Homo sapiens: one gene and its partners. The protein of the gene in region 7 interacts with the protein of the main gene of each other region in a biochemical or structural test. Each region holds a gene or a part of one and is shown on either strand. Other genes may lie near its edges. The genes, in order: SHANK2, MPP1, CYTIP, PDLIM4, HTRA3, SIPA1L3 and DGKK.

Region 1 (2,612 bases), on a different chromosome or scaffold from region 7:
CCCACAGGCAGATGGCAGCCCTAATATGCTCACTACACCGCAGGCTCATCCTCTAGAAAGGCAGAGGCTGCTCAGGGAAGCTTCGCACTTAAAGCAAATGGAGCATGACAGCATTGAGACAAGAATTACACTGATGTACTTCTCACATCGTTTTTTTGTCGAAAGAAAAACACACATGTTGCCACTTTCACTTGTGAAAAATGGAAACAGTTTTCCTGCAATGAGTGGCCTCAATCACTAAAAATGAATTTGTGTATATTTATAACAAAACGTCGAAATGATTGATATTGATGGCTTCGTTAAGCATTACCAATGAGTACCACCGGGGGGCGGCACAGCACAAGGGGAGTAGGTCAGAGAGCCCAGGGCTCCTGTGGTTAAACTTTTCTCCTTTCCATGAAAATCCTCAAACACATTTTGTATTTTAATTAAATGAAAATACTGAAAATGATACAGTAGAGAGCACTTTTAATGGAAAATTAATTGATAACACAATCTTATTTCAATTTACTTTTTATTTTTAACTTAAACGACTGTGTATTTTCCACAGTCTTATGATGAGAAAGGCTCCAGAATCACGTGTAGGTGTCCTCAACATTTCATAGCTCGAACCGTCCTTTCTTTACGTTGTGCATTGATATGGGCTTCTCAGTTCAGAAAACAAGGCACTATAACTATTTTATCAGCTACATTAATACATTGAAGATATATTTATCCTTTCATGAAAGATACAGCATTTGAATACAATATGGTTTTATGCAGATCAGGTTCAAAACACCCAAGGCACACACTTTATTTTTTTTCCTTTTTTTTTTTCTTTTCTGTGTTTATTTGAAGGCTCGTATTAAAATTTCAAAATTGGCATGAACAAAGAGTTCCAGAGTGGAATCAATGGACAGGGATTGTTGTAATTTTGAACATAAAACGGTAAAGACTGTGGAATGTAGAACAAGTTACAGGAACGATAAACAAAATCACCAATACAGCATGGATTAGAAATCAAAGTGATGAGATCTGCGGAAGTCTGAGAAACAAGTTTGGAAATTCTCTGATTCCCCACAAAGCACGGGCAGTCCTGTCTGCATGCAGCTGCTGTGGTCACCCAGCCACTGTGGAATGTTCACCTACTTGCATGGGTTCATGGTTGTCTACAAATACAGAAACACATTCCAGTTCGCCAGTTATTAAAATGCCTCCAATTTCAAGTAAAAGAAAAAATCTTCCAATAATTTTCCTAGTAAGGTAAACGAATATATTCATCTAGGAAAAGTGGTCTGGAAGAAACCATTGGAAGCAAAGTCTAGGGGGGTGCCAAGGTTTGGGAGAAACTATTGGATGGTGAAGCGGGAGAGCTTGAGGGTGAACTACAAAAGATATGAGGACTGGAATTTTTCCTGAACGTGGAAGCATAGAGGCTGCTGCTCAACTGGGGAATGTGCCAAAGTAGAAGAAACTTTAGGAACTAAAGACAACAAGTTTTCACTGGTGAGGCCAAAGAAGAAGTTCAACGTTTAGGTTTAAAATATGCTTCCCTAAAGCGGAGGGATGGCCCATGTCTTCCTGGCTTAGTTCTTTGCCAATAGACACAAATTCTCTCTTGCTCCAAGCCTTAGCATGTGGTTTGCTTGTCAACCAGAGAGGCGGCCCAGTTCTGCCACTCCCTTGGCCTTATGGCTAGAAGACACCCTGCTGGGGTGTGGGGAGACTGGACCCTAAGGGAAGGGTCCGGATCTGGCTGGCCCTCCGCGGCACCGCTGCTTCCACCCAGAACAAAAGGAAAAGCCGAGCCTCAGCTCCACGCCTATAGCAGCGGTCACAGAAGCAGATTTTGACGTTTTGCATAATTCTGAAATAACATGCACGTATCCATTGATAAATTGAGAATAAGGAAATGGAACCAAGGCAGATTAGCTCAGTGACAGGAGCCTGTTTACTCGATGAGAGAGATTTTTCTGGTCAGTTTTAGAGAGGCAGAGCTGGCCACAATGCCTGAGATAATCTACATTAGATTGCAAGTCGGGCAGCTTTTTGTTTAATTCAGACAGTGTTCACTGTTTGTTTGCAATCAGAACCACAACCTTAGTGCAATAGTATATTTATTTTTTTACAGTAATTTTGGTTGCCATACAAGAGATTTAAGGATTGGGAGAAAGTGCAAATTACAGGAGCTTTTTTTTTTTTTTATAAAGTCTAAAAAGAATAAAAGCACAAAAGTAACAGCAACATAGATAATGCGAACACGTGTTGTTACACAAACTATAGTGTGAAACATATTAGTATTTAAAAAACAAAAAAAAATTGTTAATGGGAAAATCAATATTGTGGCCCACACACAAAAAGTCATTGCCAGATCAACTGGATAATGCTTGCTTGTTCAATAACTGAGAAAAAAATTTACCATTTTATTAACTAAAGTATCACAAATAATTCACTTTGTGATATGTAAAGTTCAGCAAATCAACAGTCACATTGAGTAATTTTTATATTATGTGAATTAACTTAAAATGTGCGCAGACACCCTGGAAAAGGTATCTTGGCAGGTATACATAATTTACATTTTGAGAGATTTGGGTTTTGTATACACAATATTACAGAAACTAGGCATGTAAATG
Region 2 (3,500 bases), about 100 Mb from region 7:
CAGGTTCAGTGGCTCACACCTGTAATCCCAGCACTTTGGGAGGCTGAGGTGGGAGGATCACCTGAGGTCAGGGGTTCGAGACCAGCCTAGGCAACATAGTAAAACCTCGTCTCTACAAAAAATAAAAAAATTAGCCGGGCATGGTGGCGTGCACCTGTAATCCTAGCTACTCGGGAAGCTGAGGCAGAAGGATTGCTTGAGCCCGGGAGGTCAAGGCTGCAGTGAGTTGTGATTACACCACTGCACTCTAGCCTGGGTGACAGAGTGAGACCCTGTCTCAAAAAATAAAATAAATGAAAATACATAAACTATGTCTGGAAGGAGACATAAGAAACAGTGGTTGCTTCTAGGGAGAGGAACTGGGTGGCTATAAGATGGGGTGAGAAGGAAATTGTTTTCACTGTGTATCAAGTTATACCTTTTAAATTATGTATTATGTGCTTGTGTTACTTTAATAAAATAAATTAGTAAAAGAATTTTCCAAAGTGATTGGGACTCAGGTTCAAGTACTTGTGTGGATCTTGTCCTGCCTCAACCTTGACCCTGTTTAAGTAAGAGTAAACGGGAGGAGGGAAATAGAAACCCACAAAAAGTCATCAGGGTTGAAGGATTTCTTTCTCTTTGTTTTTTTTCCTTTTCTTTTCTTTTCTTTTTTCTTTTTTTGAGAAAGAGTCTCACTCTGTCACCCAGTCTAGAGTGCAGTGGCGTGATCTCGGCTCACTGCAACCTCCGCCTCCTGGGTTCAAGCGATTCTCCTGCCTCAGCCTCCCGAGTAGCTGGGATTACAGGCAAGCGCCACCACACCTGGCTAATTTTTGTATTTTTAGTAGAGACGGGGTTTTACCATGTTGGCCAGACTGGTCTGGAACTCCTGACCGCAAGTGATCCACCTGCCTCGGCCTCCCAAATCTGCTGGGATTACAGGCATGAGCCACCATGCCCGGCCAAGATTTCAATAGCTTTCCAGAAGACAGAAAGCAGATGGAGGAATGACCAAGGAGAGTTGAGACAGCTAGAGCCTAGAATGTGCATACAGGAGGCACCAGCCAAAGAGGCTGGGAAGATTAGTTTAGTTGAGCATCTTGCCATCCCAAACAAGATCAGGGATATGTAAGTGAGAAGTGGGATGTTGGATTGGCAACCAGTTATAATAATCTAAAAACCACTTATTGATTTTTACTTTTTAGAACTCACTTAGAAACAAATCATGAAACAAATAACAGACTGTAAATATCAGCACCATGACAATATTAAGGTACACATGTCCATGATAGGAAGTTGGCAGGTAAAAAGGGGAGAAAAATCGAAAGGAAGAGGCCTGTAATCTTGTTCTGTTACAAAGTGGGGAGTCAAGAAGTAGGATCTGCATTGGTTGGACAATAAATGAAGGAGTGAATGCATTACATAAAGTTCCAAGCCAGGTGTGGTGGCATGTGCCTGTAGTCCTAGCTACTCGTGAGGCTGAGGCAGGAGGATCATTTGAGCCCAGGAGGTCAAGGCTGCAGTGAGCTATGATAGCACCACTGTACTCTAGCCTGGGCAACAGAGCGAGACTCTATCTCTGGAAAAAGAAAAGAAAAAATCTCCAAAGCAGAAGTTGCAAACTGTTTTATTTCGACCACATGTCTCTGTTTTGTTTAGTAAAAATCAGGGGACTCCAACTTCTTTTTAAAGTATCAGAAGATCTGGCATCGCTCTCCAGGTGGCCCCAGCTCTCACATTCCTTACTGATGCCTCAGCCAGAAGCCAGTGTTGGCTACCGATCACCCTATATCTGGGGTGTTATTTTTCTCATACACGAGTGCTTTCACTCACTTGGTCCATGTAGGTTACACTAAAAGCACGTATACATGATGGAAAGGTACAGACCCATGAAAAGCTAAAATAATTTTGAAAAACAAGAGAGTAGGAAGACTCAGTCTGCACAGTTTCAAAACTTACTGTAGTATAGTCTCAGTAAAGACTATGTGGTATAGACATGCAGATCAAGGGAACAGGATAGGGAACCCAGAAACAGACCCACAGAGATATGCCCAGTTGATTTTTAACAAAGATGCAAAAGCAACTCAATGGTGCTGCAGCAATTGGAAACTCATCACCAAAAAGGGAAATGCTGACCTGAACCTTACCTTCTAAAATGGATATGGACTTACATGTAAAGTGCAAAACTAGAAAATATATTTGAAAAAAATAGAAGAAACTTGTCAGGATCTAGAGCTAGGCAAAAAGTTCCTATACATGACATCAAAAGCAGAATCCATTAAAGGAAAAATTGGTAAATTGGACCTCATCAAAATGAAAAACTCTTGTTCTGTGAAAGCCCACATGAAGATTGTGAAAATACAAGCTACAGACCGGGAGAAACATTTACAAACCACATATCCAATAAAAGACTGGTATATAGAATATAAAAAGAGAGTGCTCAATACTCAACAGTAAAAACGAACAATCTAATTAGAAAATGGGCAAAAAACATGAACAGATATTTCACCAAAGAGGATATATAAAGATGGCAAATGAGGATATAAAAAGATATTCAACATCATTAGCCATCAGGGAGAAATGCAAATTAAAACAACAATGATATATCACTACACATCTATCAGAATAGCTGAAATAAAAAAATAGTGACAATACTCATAACTGGTGAAGCTGAGGGAAAATTGGGCATCTCATACATTGCTGGTGGGAATGTAAGTGATATGGCTTCCATAGAAAATAGTTGAACACTTTATTAAAAAACCAAACACACAACTACCATAAAACCCAGGGATGACACTCCTGGATATTCACCTAGAGAAATGGAAATTTATGTTCACTCAAAAGCCTGTACATGAATGCTCATAACAGCTTTATTTATAACAGCCAAAATCTATAAAGAACCAAAATACAGGTGAACAGTTAAAGCGTGGTACATCCATACCATGGAACACTTCTCAGCAATTAAAACAAAAAACACTATTGATACTAAAACAACTTGGGATCCAGCTCAAAGGCATTATCCTGACTGAAAGAAAGCTAATCTATTTCAAAACATCACATACTATATGATTCCACTTATATAACATTCCTAAAATGACAAAATCATAGAGACATTGAACAGAGTAGTGACTGCAAGGAGTTGCGGGGATGGGGTAGGGAGGAAGACAAGTGTGACTATAAAGCGACAGCAGGAGAGAGGCCTTTGTGGGGATGGAACAGTTCTCTATCTTCATTGTGGTGGTGGCTAGAGGAATTTTATTTTATTTTATTTATTTTATTTTTTTGAGACAGACTTTCACTCTTATTGCCCAGGCTGGAGTGCAATGGCACGATCTCGGCTCACCACAACTTCCGCCTCCTGGATTCAAGCGATTCTCCTGCCTCAGCCTCCCGAGTAGCTGAGATTACAGGCATGCACCACCACGCCCGGCTAATTTTGTATTTTTTGTAGAGATGGGGTTTCTCCGCATTGGCCAGGCTGGTCTTGAACTCCCAACCTCAGGTGATCCGCCCGCCTC
Region 3 (3,500 bases), on a different chromosome or scaffold from region 7:
CAACGACTTGTTTGTAGGTAAAACCTTCTGTGCTCACACCATTGATATTTGCAAGGACATCACCTGGGAGATGCCAAGAAAAATGAGTGTTATGTTGGTTAGTTAAATAATCCCTCCTGACATGCAAATGAAACAAGCAGCTCCAAGTCTTAAAAACATAAAGGAGCCAAGAAAACTCAAAGCAACAAATACATCCTGACCTTCACTCTCAAAACATTTTATTTTCTTTCCATTTAAATGATTCCTAACATGAGCAAAAATTTAAGTTACCAGCTTGCAGGCCAGCACAGTGAGCTGGGCTGTCCTCCTGTATTTTGCATATCAAAGTGAACATTTCCGAGGAGCAGGCATTCTGATTCTGGGGCCTGTAAGACTGTAAAAATTAAGATGATATATAGTTACTATTTAACAACCTCAACATCTATTTGCCAAAATTTAAAATGATGTCAATTATCATTAAGCAGTATAATAGGTAAGTTCAAAGGACAAAGGATTTCCACTATAAACTAAATCAAGGTATCAATTTTGCAATTCTACCAGACAATCTGTAGCCAACTCCATTCATAAAGACATCTGTCATGAGAAAGAAAGTGAAATGAGAGTGGCTCAAGATTTTATATTTTCAAGCCCAAGATATCACCTGATGCTATCACGATTTATTTTTAAAAATTGAGTTTCTCATTTCCCAATGGGATAAAACAACGATGGCCAAGTGCAATGAGAAAAATCCCTAAGTGGTTCTCCCAAGCTAAAACACTCATTATAGGAGTATGAAATTGTACACATGCAGCAAGGAGACATGCCAACAATGATTATTTTAAATCAGAGTTCTGCACATAATGACAATCTGCCCTGCATTTATTCAAAAGTACTATAATTGACTCAATTACCTTCATTTCTGAGCACCCTCTGGTATGCCTGTCCTGAATCCTCACCGGTTCATTAGTCACCCAACTAAATTAGAAAAAGTTAAGCTTCAACTCTTGCCTCAATTAGGCACAAGTAGTTTGGTGGTGGTGGGTTTTTTTATTTTTAATTATACCAAAACACTGAATAAATGTTTGCTAGATATAGTGTCCCAATGACCTATAACAAATATAATTTTCTTTTTTTCACACATTTAAATTATGAAGTCTAGTTCCACTTAGAAGCAAAATCAGTGTTCTGAGTAGAGTACGTCTTTTAAACATCTGATTCCTAAAATTAAGCTACATTAAAGTAGTACTTCCTTGTGAAAAAATTGATGTCTGATGTTCATTCTTTCTTATTCAATAATCCCTGAGGCATCACAAGTCAGCCACATGCAAGCAACTTCTAGAAACTTGGGTCTGTTCACCTCTAAAGGACTTCTATCTAATCTATAAGGCACTTAGAATCCCCATATCTTAAAGGTAGAAGGGACTTTAAAAGATCATGCACTATGTTCCCATCTATGTCAGAAACTTCATTGACAGCTTTCCTGCCAGGGGTCTTCTCAGTATAGCCTAGACCCTTCTGGAGATGAAAGACTGATCTAGTTCATGTGGTACATGAATAAAATATACAACTGACACTCCTTTGGGAAACCACTGTTCTAACAATTCTCATTAGCAGTGAGACTCTACCCTCCATTCCCAGAGATCAAAGTAAGTACAGTGCAGTAGAAACATGTTGATTTATGTAGCTGGCACCTCCATATATGTTCACATTGGGTGTAAAATATGGTAGTTAGAAATAGAAAAAAACAGAAACCCCAAAGCTACAGAAAGTATTAATTGGATGCTTTTTTCTCTTACCCAGTCTTCTAGCTCCCATTAAGGGATCAGTGACACAATGATCACCTGCATTTCTTAGAGACACAAAGATCTCATTGTCCTTTCTCATGCCCAGTGACATTCATTCTAACACCTGTCATTTGTGGATCTTCTATTGGTAAGGCACATCACTAGGTACATTGCATGTATTATTTCATTTAAAACTCCTAAGGACCCCATAAGGCATTAGGAGGATATGAATTCAGGTGTGCATGAGTCCAAAGTCTGCATTCCTATTGGGCTGCACGATTCTGATAAGCAGCATAAAACTAGCTCCCATGGAGAACCATGGATCTGGTCTCTTCCAAAGTGTCATTCCTCTAGTAGGCCACATCCCAAACATGTACTCACACTGCATGCACAATATGGGTACATGAGGTTCTATCTGATTTTCAAAAAGTTCCCAGAAGCATGTCTCCTATTTGTTAACTGCTGCAAATCTGATGAGTACTAGGGAATAGATTATGGTGTGTATTTGACAATGGAGAGCATATACCAGAGGGAATTTACAGGAGTGTGGGTTCCTGCATCACTGAGATAACACCTACATGCTGCCATTTAGAGGTGCCATTAGTTCATGTTGATCTACAAAAGTTCAGTGGTGTTGTGGCCTGACATAGTTTTGACTCTTGCTCCACGGAGAATAAGTGTTTATGGTATGGGAGAAAAACTTAAGAAAGTAGTGACATTATTATGGCAGTATAAGAAAAATAAAGAAAGGTGAGTAGTCGTTTATCCAGTTTTCAGTAGCCACTGCTGCACATCCTTGAGGATAATTTTCCTTTAAAAAGAAGCAGTGACAAAAAGCAGTGTCTCTACAACAGAATAGGGAGTAGTTCATATGACCGGGGAGTAAGAGGGAGCACTATGCTTCTAAAACCTATAGATTTCACCAGTTACTGTGGTGAATTACAGATTCCTCCAAATTTAAAAGTACAGGAGTTAGGAAAGTAGAAGTGATCCTCTTTTCAAAGTGCCTTCTCTGTCTTCATTGCAGCTAAAGTTCCATTTTGTTTCTTTACTCATAAAACATGTTTTTCTTAGCAGTTTCCTGTTCCTAATCTTAAAATAAACACTGACTTTCCAATTGTGGGGCTGATATCACACCAGAGTTTTCTGAAAGCAGCAGTAAAGCTAAGATCTAAAATCTGATATAGAGTGTAAGAATATGATTATGCAAAACACATCCAAAAGACATGCAAACGTACTATGGAAAAAAAAAACAGAAATGCTTAAGCTACTACTGTTGCACTTAATTGGGTTAGACTTCATTTGACCTACCTCACCCATTTTACAAATGTGCTCATGAAAAAGCAGACAGCTAATAAGCAATGAAATTCTTAGGCAATTATGCTGAAACTTATAAAGACTTAAAAATTTCCTACAGCATGAGGCAATCTGCAAGTAGAGCCAAATGTTCTCAAGTGTTTCAAATAACAATTATAAAGCATTGTCATTAGGAAAAAAAGCTACAAATTGCTCATTATGTACAATATGAACTCTAGTTGCAAAACATACCAGGAGCTATCCATGAATATATGCATTCTATATACACAGATGTATAGTCTTTCGAGTGTCTCTTGAATGCCAAAGTAAATACTTAAAATCTGATACACAGTATAACAATATGATTATACAAAACACATGCAAATATATCAAGTACACATCTGTAAAATGTATTTCACTCTCTTATCTAAGACCTAGCTG
Region 4 (4,169 bases), on a different chromosome or scaffold from region 7:
GAGGGGAGAGTGGGAGAGATGAAGTCAGAGAAGAGGCAGGGATCAGATATTGCAGAGTCTTGTACACCCGGGTGGGAAGCTGGCATTTCTCCTGGGTGGCTGGGAACCATGGAGGGCTCTAAGCGGGAAGTCACAGGACAGAGTGGAATTCAGGCCGATCCGTCTAGCTCCTAAGCACAGGATAAACAGAAAGAAGGAACAGAGACAGGAACAGTGAAGTCAGGTGGGCGGTGAGGGCATGAATCAGCCCCTTACCGGTAGTGGCTGCATTCCCAGCCCCTGCTCCACCCAGCCTAGATGTGGTGGGCTGGGAGTCCAAGTCAGAACCAGGTGCCACATTGTCCTACACAGTCACAGCAAACTGCAGACTGCCTGGATTCCTCCTGTCTCCACTCTGCTTCTCTAGGTTGATTACATTAGCCTCTCTGTGCCTGGGTCTCCATCTATGTAAGGCCAGAGGGAGTCCTTACTTCTAAAGGCTGTTGTAAGGACTATTTGAGAAAAACAGGGCATGTAAAGCCCCCACAGGAGGCTGGGCATAAATAAGGTGGTGCTCACTACAGGGACTGGAGGGAGCTGTTACCAACACCCATTAGGGTAGGGCCTGGCACACCCTGGATGCTTGGCCAAGGCCAGCCATCATTATAGCTTGTGGGGAAGGAGCCCCGGATGATGTTCTTGGGACTCCTGGAGGCTTCATGGGCTGAGATTGCAAGCCCCCAGCCCTGCCGGGCCGATAGCCTCCTCCCTGTCTGTGTGAGGCTGTCCCTCCCTACCAGGTCCCGCGTAGGGGAGGTCCTGGAAGCAAGGGAGGGGCTGGATCTTGAGCCCCACTGGTGAAGACACTCCCACATATCTTCAGTCCCTGTAGACCTGCCCCAGAGGTACCTGCTAGGCAAGCTGTGGCCTGTGCCTCCCCAGCGCTGTAAATCTCCCCAGATCCCACCCAAACCCAACCTCAGCCATCCTGGCTCCTTGGGCCTGAGCTGCTGCCGCGTGACTTTGGGGGACAAAGGAGGCTCTTCCTGGCAAACCTTCTCCCAGACTGCCTGCCTGGGGCCTGCATCCCCAGTCAGCTCCAAACAAGGCTGTTGCTGCTGCTGCTGCCGCAGCCGCAGCTGTGACGTGTGGAGGCCTTTCCTCGGAGGGCAGGCAGCCGCGTGGGCAACAGATGTCTCAGCTCCCTGCCGCCTGCAGCCGTCAGCCGCCGCCACTGAGCCTGTCAGCGGCCTCACGCCCAGGGTGCCTGGCCAGCCCGCTTAGTGTCCCCACCAGCCCCCTCAGCGGACACACAGCATGACACACACAAGCAGACACAGGCTTGCGTACACACACACACACACACACACACACACACAGCAGGAATCCTATAGGAAAGAGGAGATGAAAGGCTCTGGGATGTGTTGAAGGCCCACCTCACTCGGCCCCAGGGACCTGGCAGTGAGGGCAGATGTGGGAAGCCTCCTAGGACAGCTGGGCCTGCCTGTCACCCTGGCCCCCAGAAACGGGATTCCATGATTCCACGCTCCACCTGGTGCCCACCCCCTCCCAAGAACTGGACAGAAGTCTCTTAAAGCCCAGCCGGCTTGGCCCAGCCCCCATGGCAAGAGGTGGCAGTAGGGTGGGGGAAGGTGCTTCTCTGTGCCTCTGACACAGGCCCCCAAAGACAAGATCAGCCTGTGTGGGAGCAAGGGATGGCCGTCAGATGGTTTCAGGTTATCTCCTCTGCTCCTTCCAGACTGAGAGCCGCCAAGGGCAGGGCCTGGGTTCTCTCCTCTTCTGTCCCTTAGGCTGGGGACCCCCAAGGGCAGGGTCTGAGTCCTCTCTTTTGGCCCTCCAGACACGAGGATGTCGAGGCTGGGCCAGGATCCTGTCTCCCCTAGACAGGCACCCCCTCGAACAGGGCCTGAGTCACCTCCTCCACTCCTCTATCCTCAGACTAGCCACGCTCCAGGGCTGTGCCGGCTCCTTTTCCTTCTCTGTGGGCAAGGCAGGGCCCTGGGAAACTTGAGGAACGGGCCTGAGGCTGTCCTGGCCCCCGGCTTTGTGTCATCTTGTGGGGAGGGGTCTCACAACCTCACAGTTAAGTCTCCCTTTCCCCTGGAAGCCAAAATTCCTCCTGGTCACTTCCCCTTAGGGTGACTGAGGTCGTGAATGAGAGACTGACTCACGCCCAAAGTGGGAAGTGGATGGACCTCTGTCTTCTCAGATTCAGCGAGGACCCCAGACCTCCCTGGGTCACCAAGCTCTGCCGGCAGGGACCCCTGATAGGGGAAGGGGGGCTCTAAATCATTTTGCCCCAGATCTTCAGGCAGGGGGTGAGTCTGAAGAGTTTCTGGGCCTCTGTAGAGCTGTCTAGACCCCTGGCCCATCTCCGCGGGTCCTTCCCGGGTCCACAGTGGCTCCCCCAGATGAGGCCAGCGGGGAGGCGGGTGCGTGAACTCTTGGGAGATTCTTCGCGGGATCGGGCAGACAGGCCCAGCGTGGGAGGAGGGCGGCTGGGGCTGCCTGCCTCTGCCTGGAAGCCGCCTCTACAGCATGCGGGGCGCCCAGGCCAACCCTCCGCCTTCAAGCCTCGGATACACAGGGGATCTGGGTCCCGGGCGGACCGCGAGAACCCGGTCTCAGACATGGGACCGCCCTGCCGCCACGCAGCCGCCAGACTCACCCGTGAGATGGTGAGGGGCGCGCTGAAGTCCCGGCCGCCCACCAGGCGGAAGCCCCAGGGCGAAGGCCCGCGCAGGGTCACGGAATGGGGCATCGCGGGCTGGAGCCGCAGCCGGAGCCTGAGCCGGACTCTGAGGAGGAGCCGCCGCCGCCGCAGCCGCCGCCGCCGCCTGGACGCCGCGCCCGCCCCCGGCCCGCCCGCCCCTGTCCCCACTCGGCCCAGCCCCCGCCCCCGCTCCCTGTGCGCCTGGATTGGCCCCGCGGCCAGCCCGACCCTCCCACTTCGGGGGGCTCTGAGGACCCGCCCTCAGCCCCGGCTGCCGGCAACCCGGCACCCCCACTCAGCTCTCAGAGATCCCCGCGTTCGGACGGCCCCGACGGCCTGGATCCTGCTCGGGCCTTGGATCTGCAGGCCGCGGACCCAAACCCAGCTGTCGACACCGGCCCTTTGAAGTCGCTTTTAGGGGCGGTGCTCCAGCCCGAGGAGGGATGGAGGGCCCACTTGGGGGATGGGGCTGCCCCAGCTCAGATACCTCCTCATGGGCCCGACTGGCACACCTGCGGCCCATCCTGCCGTGTGAGGAGCCCTCTGAACCAAGAACCCTATGAACCAGGGGCTTGCGCAGCACTGGGCCGGGGACGCAGACCCAAAACGACAGCAGGCAGCGCCGAGCGTGGGAGTGGACACAGAAAGGTCCTCAGACTAGTTTGTGGAGGCCAGTAAGGCTTCCTGGAAGAGGTGGTCCCTGACTTGTATCTGGAAGCAAGGTGTCCCTGCTTCCCCAGAACATTCAGGCCTTCTCTTGCTGCTTGCAGGCTCCTCGCAGGCCACCTCCCTGTCTGCACAGCCCCCTCCCCTCGTCCTTTGCCAGGAGATTTGTTTCCCCAGGTCTCCTGAGAAAGTAGCAGCTGGAGCGGCTGGGGTCGTGGCTGTGCAGTGTAAAGGGAAGAAATATATGCAGCGCTTCACTTTGGGCCCTTTTCTCTCCAAGGTCTTCTCTCCATTCCCAACCATTATCCTCCGGGGATGTACTTGAACAGCCAATGCAGATGCCATGGCACCACCAACCTCCCTCTGGTTCTCTCGGCACTTCTATCTGGCTACATCAGGGAGACACCTTTTACTTTTCCAGACTCTGTGGAGGTCTCTCATTTAGCCCAAATCCTTAACCTTATGTGTCCTTTTAGTCAAGCTGTGATAAGGACCCTGCTCTTGGGCTCCTCACAGGTGGTGGGATGAAATGTGTCCACTGGGTCTCTGACAACCCGCAAAGAGGAGAACTGCTTGAGAAGCACAAACCTAGGGCAGTCCAAGGAAGGGAGGGGCCCTTCAGAGTAGAATGTGGGTGCCTCTGTAGGAGGCAAGATGCTGCTATCTGTTCAGCTGGGAGAGAAACAAGTGGTGTGTGGTAGCGGTGTTTATATGGGAGTGTATTTGGGGTGTGTGTGTGGGGGGGGGTGCGGTGTCTGAATCCATTAGAGCACCAGCCATTGGGCTGTTC
Region 5 (3,500 bases), on a different chromosome or scaffold from region 7:
AAGAGCTTCAGAGACTTCTGGGGCAGAGCTGGGACTCCACCCTGAGCAGCCAGACATGAGGGACAGAACTGGGTCCCAGTCCTGGTGCTCTGCCCATTATGTGCTGGAGCAGGGTAATGCACACAGGTGGGCAGGCTGTACATTGCACAATTCCAGGGAGTCACCTGCTACCCCTGCACTAGACCTGGCTTTCAGCTTGGGGAACATATGGACGTGTCCTCGCCATATCTTTGCTGCACCAAGGACAGCGGTCTATGATTTTAAACCCTGTCCCACCCATTAGTCCACAAACACCCTCATCAAAACCAAACAAGGCAGACACTTCGAGCTGCTAGGGGCCTGCCTGGTATTCAGAGCACTGGCTGGGGAACCAGGGGACCTGGGCTCAGGGCAGAACCATCCATCCCTACCTGAGTGACCGAGGGCAGCTTCCTACAGCTCCCTGAACCCTTTCTCATACAGGACCAGGACATCAATACCCCAATGATGTGTTGAAGGCTTTGTGGGCCTGGAACAGTGCCCAGTGTCACACCGTTCACCCTTGTGAAACCTGGTGGCCTCCCTCCCTCAAAGCAAGCCTGGGCGGAAGGTGTTCAGACCACCTGGCAGGCCCTGGTGAGCCTGTGGGAGGCCAAGGGTGCACAGGCCCCCTTGTACCCACCTCTCCACAACTAGACGCCCCCATCTCCAGAAAGCCCTCCTGATCTAGCCCTCTCTCCACTCTGAAGGTGGTTTCTTCCTCTTCTGGGCTCCATGCATTGTCATTGGTCCCTCACAATGCAGGATGGGGGTTTCACAGGGGTCTGCGGCTGTGGTGATGTGGGCAGGAGGCAGTGGTTGGGGTCACCAAGCCTGCGAGCCTGCCAGGAGGCTATGCTTAGTCCTGAGGCCGTGGGAGCCATGGCCCAGCTTTCGGCAGGGAGGGTCCGGGTCTCGCCAAGTCCCTTCAGGCTGCTGTGTGGGGCTGCATGGGAGGGCAGAGGCCTGTCGGGGGAAGACCACAGGATGGCAGATGGGGTGAGGGTGCATTTGCTAGGCCAAGCCCCGGCAGGAAGGGCAGCTGCACAGCGCCCTGGTCTCAGCTCCAGTCCGGCTGGACTCCTGGCTCCTGGCAGCCTTGGCGAAAGCTCTTGGCCAAGCAGCTCTGCCGGCAGTTCCAAGTCCTCCAGTGCCGCCAGATGCTGTGGCTCAGCACTGCAGCCCCAGCGGGAGTGGGCGGGGCAGGAGGGGAGGCGTCATCTTGCCTGAGTGGTCCCAGATGCTGAACTCCAAGGCATGTGCAGCCCCAGGAAGCTGCTAAGAGGATTACAAATCAAAAGCCAACCCAAGTTCTTCAATAAATACAACCGGGAGATGCCATCAGAACCTGCTTGGGGTTGCACAATAAAAGCCGGTGATTAAATGCCACCTTGTAAACTGCTCTGGGGCTCTACATTCTGAGCGCATGGCAGGCTCCAAGGCCTGTTTATCTGCAGCCAGAGGAGAGGCTGCATGGCCTCAGAGCTCTGGTTACGCGCAAAGGGAAACCCTTCTCCACACAGGCCCTCAGAAACGCATTTATCCCTGCTTTTACCATCCCGTGGATGGACATTTATCCACTCTGTGCAACTGCGATGCCTTAACATGGACCTGAGAAGATGCGAGGGTTCCCCTGAGAAGTGGTGAGCCTCTGTCACTGGAGGGATGCAAGAAGGGCCCAGAGGGTTAGAGGAGATTCACACATCACATGGGCCCTCGTCTCATTTCGTGTCATCTACAGAGGCCACGCACTGGCCCAGGCCCCTGCCCGGCGAGGCTTCGAGCCTGGAGGAGATGGGGATCACGCAGAGAAATTGACCCACAGTCACATCTGTGTGCAGGGCCCACCGGAGACCCTGGGTGTGCTCACCAAGCAATGAAGGATGACCTGGGCACAGTGGCCAGGGCAGGTGGCTCAGGGGCGGTGGGACATCCGGGTGAAGGCAGGATGAGGAACCCACCACGCTAAGGCAAGGGAAGGAAACGCCGGGCAGTGGGCACATTGCGTGCAAAGGCCTCGAGGTGGGAAAGAGACCGGTGAGGCCATGAGGCCAGAGCACAGGGGATGAGGGGACAGTGGGAGACGGCACCGAGGGTGATGCGGGCCAGGTGGCAGGCACAGGGCCCTGTGAGTCAAGGTAAGTGCTGGGGTGCCTTGCAAGGAAGCCTGCAGGTCATGGGCAGGACAGATTGACCAAGGTGATCCTGGCTGCTGTGTGAGAAGTGATGGAAGGGAGGATGGAGGGGGAAGTCAGAGCGCCCCAGGAGATGTTTTGTGGATGAGCTGAGGGGACTCCCGGTGCACAGGAGAATGAGGGGTGGAGGGGAGTGAGAGGCAGAGAGGAATGAGGGGTGGAGAGGAGTAAGGGCCCCCATCCACACAGCTGGGCTGCAATGGGCAGGCCCAGGAAAGGTACCCCCACACCAAGTCCCAAACTGATGAGCCACTGTGACAGTGCAGCAGGCATTGAGGGGAGTGAGGGGAAGAGGGGAATGAGGGGCGGAGGGACGGAGGGGATCGAGGCTCCCCACTGAACATCGTGGTGCTCCTTTCAGTGGGGCTGGGAAGAGTAGAGCCCGAGGCGGCTCAGCAGGCATCTCCACGTGACTCTAACTCAGGAGAGACCCGGGGGCTGGAGATAGGGCCCGAAGTCCCAGCACCTGGGGAGGACTTCATGGCAGATGAGCTTACTGGGGCGGGGGTGCGGGGGGGAGGGTGGCGAGAAGGGACCAAGGAGACCTTCCTGCCTAGAGGGTGGGAGAAGGCGGAGGAGCTGACATGGGGAGGGGAGAGGAGAGCACAAGGAACCTCAGCCCACAGGAGGCTGCCCTCATCAGGCAGGACTTCCTCCCAGAAATGCCCGGCAGCGCCTGGCACACCACTAAGTGTGACCGGCACCCAGCAACTTCTGGCTGGGACCTCGGGAGGGCAGAAGCCGGCTACGCTGCTGGAATACTCCATGGAGGCTGAGCCTGATGGAGCCGGGGGCCCAGGCCTGACCCGACTCCCAGCCTCAGGGGCCCTGCCACCCCTTGCAGAGGAAAAGCCAGGAGGCCCACAGAGCATAGCCTGCAAAGCCAGCCAGACCCAGGCCAGGCCCAGCCGGGTCACTTCCTGACCATGTGACCTCAGAGCAGTCCCTCACCCTTCCTGGCCTCCAGCAGCACATCTGTGGTGCCTGGGAAAGGACCAGGCTTGCCGTGGGAAATGAGACAGGGCTGGGGAGAGGCCGGGCACCCAAGGCCTCCACAGGGAGTGGACTCTGCGTGTCGCCCTGCCGAAAGCTGGCTGTCCAAGGTCCCCGTGCACCGGGCTACAGTGGCAGGGCTGCACACCGCCCACAGTGTGAACGGCGCCCTGGAGATGGCCAGCAGCCTCCCACCTGCACTCTCTGCCTCCCCTCCCCACCAGGCCCCATTTCCCCACCTGGCTCCGTGGGCTCTGGTGGCGACAGGGCTCTCGGGTCCTGTGCAGGTCTCTG
Region 6 (3,500 bases), on a different chromosome or scaffold from region 7:
TTTTTTTTTTTAATTAAAAAAAATCCTGGCTGGGCACAGCGGCTCACGCCTGTGATCACAGCACTTTGGGAGGCTGAGGCGGGCAGATCACGAGGTCAGGAGATCGAGACCATCCTGGCTAACAAGGTGAAACCCCGTCTCTACTAAAAATACAAAAATTAGCCAGGTGTGGTGACAGGCGCCTGTAGTCCCAGTTACTCGGGAGGCTGAGGCAGGAGAATCACGTGAACCTAGGAGGCAGGAGGAGGCGGAGTTTACAGTGAGCCTAGATTGCACCACTGCACTCCAGCCTGGGCGGCAGAGTGAGAGGCCGTCTCAAAAAAAAAAAAAAAAAAAAAATCCTGATCCTGCCTCTTCAGATAGTTTTAACTGTGATGGAGAAAATTTAACAGGGTAAGTGGAGAGCAAATGGCTGATGGGGCAAGATGGCGGTGGTTACCTTAGCTTTGATGGTCAGGGAAGGCCTCCCAGGCCTCTTTGAGGAGTCATGTGAACTGATACCTTAATGAGCAGTGGCACTGGCTATGCCGAAAGTTGAAGAAAGAACATTCCAGGTAGAGGGAACAGCAAGTGTTAAGGCCCGGAGGTGGGAGTGAGTTTGCTACAAAGAGTATCAGTTTGACTGGAGAAGAGTTAATTCCTAGTTTTCAAGTTGATACTACTTTAATTTTTTTTTTTTTTGTGGCAGGGTCTGCTCTGTCGCCCAGGCTGGAGTGCAGTGGCATGATCTCAGCTCATTGCAACCTCTGCTTCCTGGGCTCAAGTGATCCTCCTGCCTCAGCCTCCCAAGGAGCTGGGATTACAGGAATGTGCCACCACACCTGGCTAATTTTTTTTTGGTACTTTTAATAGAGGAGACAGGTTACACCATGTTGGCCAGGGTGGTCTCAAACGCCTGACCTCAGGTGATCTGCCTGCTTCAGCCTCCCAAAGTGCTGGGATTACAGGTGTGAGCCACTGCAGCCGGCCACATTTTTTCTATTTTTTGTAGAGACCTGTTTTGCCCAGGCTGATCTTGAACTTCTGGGCTCAGGTGATCCTCCACCCTCAGTCTTCCAAAGTGCTAAGATTACAGGCACGAGCCACCATACCTGGCCTACTTTTTTATAAAATAATAATAATGATAGCAGCTTACCTGGTGCTTACTCTGTGCTAGATGCTTTTCTAAGCATTTCACACATTCCTCAGTTAATCCTGACAGTAGTCCAGTGAAGTAATTAACTTGATCAAACTCATTTTACAGATGAGGAAACTGATTCCACCCTCCATGCTCTTCACCTGCATTCTAAACTCTTCCAGGGCCCTCCTTACCAGGCAGAGGCAAATTGAGGAAGTGGACACAGCATTTCCTTTCCTTGTTGTTTGACATGCAAAGCACTTTAGACTATATTTAGTACCTAATTGATGTGGCAGCAGGGGCCGCCTGGGATGTTGTGGCATCATTTTTGCTCTCAATGAGACACGATAGGGATGGTTTGGTGGTGGTTTCAAAACTAAAGACCCTCCAGCAGAGCCTGTCAAGTAAAACAAGGTTGACTGCTTGGTTGCCATACCAGGCACAGGTTAGCATGAAACAAAGTGTAGTGTCCAAGGAGAGGGAGCAGGGTGTCTCCTTTGGGTGAGCTTTGCAAGGGGACTTGGGACTTGGCTGGAAAAGGTGTTTTTTTTTGTTTGTTTGTTTTTGTTTTTTTTGAGTCAGAGGCTCGCTCTGTTGCCCACGCTGGAGTGCAGTGGTGTGATCTGGGCTCACTGCAACCTCCGCTTCCTGGGTTCAAGCGATTCTCCTGCCTCAGCCTCCTGAGTACCTGGAGTTACAGGCGCCCACCGCCACTCCCAGCTAATTTTTGTATTTTTAGTAGAGATGGGGTTTCACCATCTTGGCCAGGCTGGTCTCCAACTCCTCACCTCAAGTGATCCGACGGCCTCAGCCTCCCAAAGTGTTGAGATTACAGATGTGAGCCATGCACCCAGCTGGAAATGGTGTTTTAAGCACACTAGCCATGTGGGCTGTTAAAGTATCATACTATAGCCCATCAACTAAGACAATGATTCTTGGACCTGTAAGGGCCCCAGGTCCCTGCTCCGGCATCATGACCTGTGTGCACTTTGATTTGCTGTAGCGTGGGCGTATTTTGAATGAAGGGTAGCCCTGGTTAGATGTGAGGACAGTAGTGGGTGCTTTTAAGACTAAAAATATTGGGTGGGCATGGTGGCTCAGGCTTGTAATCCCAGCACTTTGGGAGGCCGAGGTGGGAGGATTACTTCAGACCAGAAGTTCAAGACCAGTCTGGGCAACATAGACCCCAACTCTGCAAAAAAAAAAAAAGTTTTTGTTTTTGAGACAGTTCTCACTCTGTTGCCCAGGCTGGAGTATAGTGGTATGATCACAGCTCACTGCAACCTCTGCCTCCTGGGTTCAAATGACTGTCCTGCCTTAGCCTCCACAGTAGCTGGGATTACAGGCGCCCACCACCACACCCGGCTAATTTTTATATTTTTAGTAGAGATGGGGTTTTACCATGTTGGCCAGGCTGGTCTCAAACTCCTGACCTCAGGTGGTCTTCCCGCCTCAGCCTCCCAAAGTGCTGGGATTACAGACGTGAGCCACCGCATCTGACCTCATCTCTGCAAAAAATTTTTAAATTAGCCAGGCTTGGTGATGTGCACCTATAATCCCAGCTACTCAGGAGGCTGAGGTGAGAGGATCACTTGAGCCCAGGCACTACCACACCTTGAGCCCAGGAGATCAAGGATACAGTGAGCTATGATCACACCACTCTGTGTCTAAAAAAAAAAAAAAAAAAAAAAGACTGAAAGTATGGAGAGCATCTTTCATCTGTCCATCTGTGAAACATTTCTTCACCTACCCTGTGTGTCAGGGTCCATGCTTGACACTGACAGTATAAAGTTGAATAAGACACTGGTTCTCAAAAGCCCACAACAGTGCTGTCTGTTAGAAATATAACGTGGGGCCGAGCGCGGTGACTCATGCCTGTAATCCCAGCACTTTGGGAGGCTGACGCGGGTGGATCACTTGAGTTCAGGAGTTCGAGACCAGCCTAGCCAACATGGTGAAATCCCATCTCTACTTAAAATACAAAAATTAGCTGAGTCTGGTGGCATGTGCCTGTAATCCCAACTACTCGGGAGACGGAGGCAGAGAATCACTTGAACCCTGGAGGTGACAGTTGCAGTGAGCCAAGATTGCACCACTGCACTCCAGCCTGGGCAACAGAGTGAGACTCCTTCTCAAAAAAAAAAAAATGTGGGTCACTGATGAGGCTCATATAGGTAATTAAAAATTTTCTAGTAGCCATATTTTGAAAAGTAAAAGGAAGCAGGAAAGTAATTTTAATGATATATTTTATTTCATCTAAAACATCATTTCAACATGTAATCAATATAGAAATTATTAGTGAGCTATTTTACTTCCTTTTTTCCACATTAAGCGTTTGACATACAATATGTATTTTACACTTTCAGCGTATCTCAGTTGGTAC
Region 7 (3,500 bases):
CTTCTGGGTATGGCATACCCAGTTTAGCATAATGCTGTAACTTCTTGTTAAAGAGACAAAGCCATCACTAATTTTTTTTTTTTTTGGCATATAGTTAAAAGTGACTCAGAAATTTAGATTTTTTCCCTTTGGGAATTTAACAGTGGGAAGATAAGGTTGGTTTTGTTCTGGATCTCCTTCTCCAAGGCCAAGTCACAAAAGCTAACTGGACAAATAAAATCTAAGTGTCCAAAAAAGTGCAGTAAGTAAATGTGAGATCAAACTGCATTTGTATATGGGAGCAACTGCAACAATTGTGTCTACATAAAATCTATATACTTACTGCTTCACACAGCAAATATGCCCCTGAATGGTTGTGATTCAAGCATATGTTTAACAATCAGATCAGACAGGAGTTTGACTAGATGAACTTTAAGCTAAAATGAACAAGTGTTTCCTAAATCCAAGGTAGAATAATGAACACGATCTAATAATTAAGCGTGTGGGGCTGTGACTGGGGCAGGGTGAAGCCCGAGACACAATTGTGCATTCCCCAAAGTCTTACTACAGAAGACTATAAGCAAATATTCAGAGAAAATAAATGAAAAATATAGCAAAATATTAACAGTGATTATCTCTGAGTGGTGGGGTACTAGATGATTTTTATTTACTTTTTAGAAGCTTTCTTGATTTTCCACATTCTCTGAAATTAGCATGCATTCCTTTATTTTATTACATTGAATTTTAGTTTAAGTAGAGGAATGCTGAGAGAACTGACTATTAATAGTGAATACCTTGGCAAAGCATCTGGTAAAACAAATAACCACCATCTGCATATTTGTTTTGGTAATTGAGTCTCTCATTTACCAGTTTTGCTTAAAGGTAGTCTCATCCATGTGGTTTTGTTCACTGTAGAATCCTCAGTGGTTAGCACAATGTTAAACACATAGCACATAGGGAGCAGGTATCAGTTTACGTTTTAAAGAAATAAATGAATTTTAAAATTTGGAAAACATTAATTGAGTCTCTCTGCTTATAAATATGATTTGCAAATTTTATGGATTTGTGAAAATCAAGCCCTTTTATCGCCCTGCAGGAACAGACATCAAAGCCAGCACATAATGAAACATAATGGAGGATGGATCACCTCCATTACTGAGTTGGCGAAGGGTCCTTCCCTGTTAGGTAGGGGTGTCTGACTAATTGGTAGTTAATAGCAAGAGTGTCACTGCTTTTGAGTTTATCATCAACTCTTAATTCTCTGTAGTGTTAGATGGGAACAATGACGCAGCGAATTCCCAAATCATTTGTTCGGTTTGGAAAAGAGGTATGATTTTTCCCCAGAAGGTTTGCCTCCTAATTCTTTTTCTTTTGGACAGTGCCTTTCTTGGGAGTGTTGCCTACCTGGATGATGGGGAAGGTAACCAGAAATAGACTGGGGCAGCGGGAAGCCAGCCTGGGATTAAAATGTATCATCCTTTAGCCTTAGTGCTGAATGTAAAGTTCACTGGTGCCATTTGAGAGGGATAGTACCTTTTCTTTGTACAACACTTCAGATCTGTGGAGCCTGTGGGAGAAGTGAGTGCTTTTTTTTTTTTTTTTTTTTTGAGGCTTTTTTTCTGTCTTTGCTTTTTCTTTTAAAAAATCTCAGGAAGAAAGTTCAATGGTGTTGGAGGGATTATAGCCAACTTGCCTTAGATTAGGAGGATTTCTTCCCTTTTCCTCAAATATTTTTTTTCTCCTCTTGGATGTGGAGAGGAATAAAGTCCATTGATTTTAGTAAAGTTGAAGGTATCTCCTCTTACAATGGAAGATTTTTTTCTTTAAAAATCTCCAGGGGAAAAGATTCATTGCTTTTGGTGGAGGTGGGGGAGCATCTCTCTTTAGGTCTGGAGGATTTCCATTAAAAAATAGGTTTTGTGGAGAGGACCTACAAGGGCAACTTGTTTTAATGAAGCTGGGGAGCCCTCCCTAGTAGGATTTTTCTTTCTTTCCTTTTCTTTAAAAGAAACAGTTTATTGGGAAAAATTAGAATGGGAGACATCTCTCCTGGAAAGATTTTCTTTTCCTTTCCTTGCTTTTTTTTTTTTTTTTTTTTTTTTTTTTTTTTTTAATGAAACAGTGAAGGCTGAAAGATACATAAGGTCCCTGGGATAGGGTGAGATTGGGTACATACCCACCACCCCCCCCACACGCACATTCCCCACCTTGAAGAAGCTTGAGAAAGAGATTTTGTGTGTGTGTGGTTTTTTTTTCCTTATTGTGGGGGATGGAGAGGGTAGTCATCAGGAATAATACGCAATGTCTGCAGTAAGGTGTTGGTGCATTTTCCTGGAGAGAATTTCTTTCTTTGATCCTTTAAAAAATAATCCCTTTGTTAATTTTCTTCTTCCTCTTTCCCACCCCTCCTTCTCTGCCACCTTCACTCTATCCTACCTAGTCCTTTTCCCCTTCCCTTCACATTTCTCCCCCCATCCTCCTTCCTCTCTCCCTCTCCTTTCCTCCGTCTCCCCTTTCTTTTTCCCTCTCCTCCCTTCTCTCCCCCTCTTTCTTTTTCCCTCTCCACCTCTCCCTTTGTCTCTCTCTCTGGCTCCCTCCCTTCCTCTGTCTCTCTCCCTCTTTTTTCCTCTCCCTATCTCAGTCTCTCCCTACCTGCTCCTACCTTCCTCTCCTCTCTACCTGTCCGGCTTTCCCCCTCCCTCCCTTCTCCCCTCCTCCCTCTCTTCCTCTCTCTGTTTCTCTCCCTCCTTCTCCCTTCTCTTCCTTCTTTCTCCCTCTCTCCTTCTCCCCTCCTCCCTCCCTTCCTCTCTCTGTTTCTCTCTCTCCTTCTCCCTTCTCTTCCTTCTTTCTCCCTCTCTCCTTCTCTTTGTTTCTTTTTTGTTTTCAGAAAAATATTCAAGGACTTTGGTGAGTTTGGGGGCATCTTCATTCCTTAAGAAAAATATTTCTCTTTAAAATATACTGTTCATGTTCTTCCCTTCCCGCCCCCCATAATTCTAAATGTATTTGCTTGTTTTGAGAAAAAAAGGGGCTTTGTTGAGGCTGAGAATACTTTTGTTTAAGAGGACTTTCTTGGCTTTGTGTTTCTCCCCTACCTATCTTTTCTATTTGTTCTCAAATTACAAAAATTCTATATTAAGAATAAATCTTTTGGTAAATTATATAAATATATTAAATTATCACATGTTCCCTGAAAATATGTACATCTATTATGCATCAGTTAAAAATTAATTAAAAATAAATAAATAAAATAAAAAGAATAAAGTTTTTGAGTGAATTTGAGTCAACTCCCATTAGAAGGATTTTCTTTCATTTTTTCTTCTTTTAAAAAAATCGGTTTTTTTTTTTTTGGTTGTGTTTTGACAGGAAAATTAATGGGTCTTTGTGACATTGAAGTACTTCTTCTCTTTAAGAGGATTCTGTTTTTGTTTCATTAGTAATATCCTCTTCACCAACACATATACCCTTCCATTCTTAATTTTATTTTAAATCTTAAAAAAAATTGTATTTTAAGAATAAGG

Evidence for each region.
Region 1: the proteins of DGKK (region 7) and SHANK2 interact in a test that uses a peptide from one of them, tested with the Homo sapiens proteins (one large-scale study listed by IntAct).
Region 2: the proteins of DGKK (region 7) and MPP1 interact in a test that uses a peptide from one of them, tested with the Homo sapiens proteins (one large-scale study listed by IntAct).
Region 3: the proteins of DGKK (region 7) and CYTIP interact in a test that uses a peptide from one of them, tested with the Homo sapiens proteins (one large-scale study listed by IntAct).
Region 4: the proteins of DGKK (region 7) and PDLIM4 interact in a test that uses a peptide from one of them, tested with the Homo sapiens proteins (one large-scale study listed by IntAct).
Region 5: the proteins of DGKK (region 7) and HTRA3 interact in a test that uses a peptide from one of them, tested with the Homo sapiens proteins (one large-scale study listed by IntAct).
Region 6: the proteins of DGKK (region 7) and SIPA1L3 interact in a test that uses a peptide from one of them, tested with the Homo sapiens proteins (one large-scale study listed by IntAct).

Annotation. Positions count from the first base shown.
Region 1 is NC_000011.10:70,467,354-70,469,965, forward strand, and holds the end of SHANK2 (SH3 and multiple ankyrin repeat domains protein 2), read right to left. Parts: 3' UTR 501-2,612; downstream 1-500. UniProt on the Homo sapiens protein: Seems to be an adapter protein in the postsynaptic density (PSD) of excitatory synapses that interconnects receptors of the postsynaptic membrane including NMDA-type and metabotropic glutamate receptors, and the actin-based cytoskeleton.
Region 2 is NC_000023.11:154,795,486-154,798,985, forward strand, and holds part of MPP1 (55 kDa erythrocyte membrane protein), read right to left. Parts: intron 1-3,500. UniProt on the Homo sapiens protein: Essential regulator of neutrophil polarity. Regulates neutrophil polarization by regulating AKT1 phosphorylation through a mechanism that is independent of PIK3CG activity.
Region 3 is NC_000002.12:157,430,590-157,434,089, forward strand, and holds part of CYTIP (cytohesin-interacting protein), read right to left. Parts: intron 374-3,500; coding exon 271-373; intron 64-270; coding exon 1-63. UniProt on the Homo sapiens protein: By its binding to cytohesin-1 (CYTH1), it modifies activation of ARFs by CYTH1 and its precise function may be to sequester CYTH1 in the cytoplasm.
Region 4 is NC_000005.10:132,256,327-132,260,495, reverse strand, and holds the start of PDLIM4 (PDZ and LIM domain protein 4), read right to left. Parts: upstream 2,801-4,169; 5' UTR 2,762-2,800; coding exon 2,669-2,761; intron 1-2,668.
Region 5 is NC_000004.12:8,272,754-8,276,253, reverse strand, and holds part of HTRA3 (serine protease HTRA3 isoform 1 precursor), read right to left. Parts: intron 1-3,500. UniProt on the Homo sapiens protein: Serine protease that cleaves beta-casein/CSN2 as well as several extracellular matrix (ECM) proteoglycans such as decorin/DCN, biglycan/BGN and fibronectin/FN1.
Region 6 is NC_000019.10:37,913,708-37,917,207, forward strand, and holds part of SIPA1L3 (signal-induced proliferation-associated 1-like protein 3), read left to right. Parts: intron 1-3,500. UniProt on the Homo sapiens protein: Plays a critical role in epithelial cell morphogenesis, polarity, adhesion and cytoskeletal organization in the lens.
Region 7 is NC_000023.11:50,460,826-50,464,325, forward strand, and holds part of DGKK (diacylglycerol kinase kappa), read right to left. Parts: intron 1-3,500. UniProt on the Homo sapiens protein: Diacylglycerol kinase that converts diacylglycerol/DAG into phosphatidic acid/phosphatidate/PA and regulates the respective levels of these two bioactive lipids.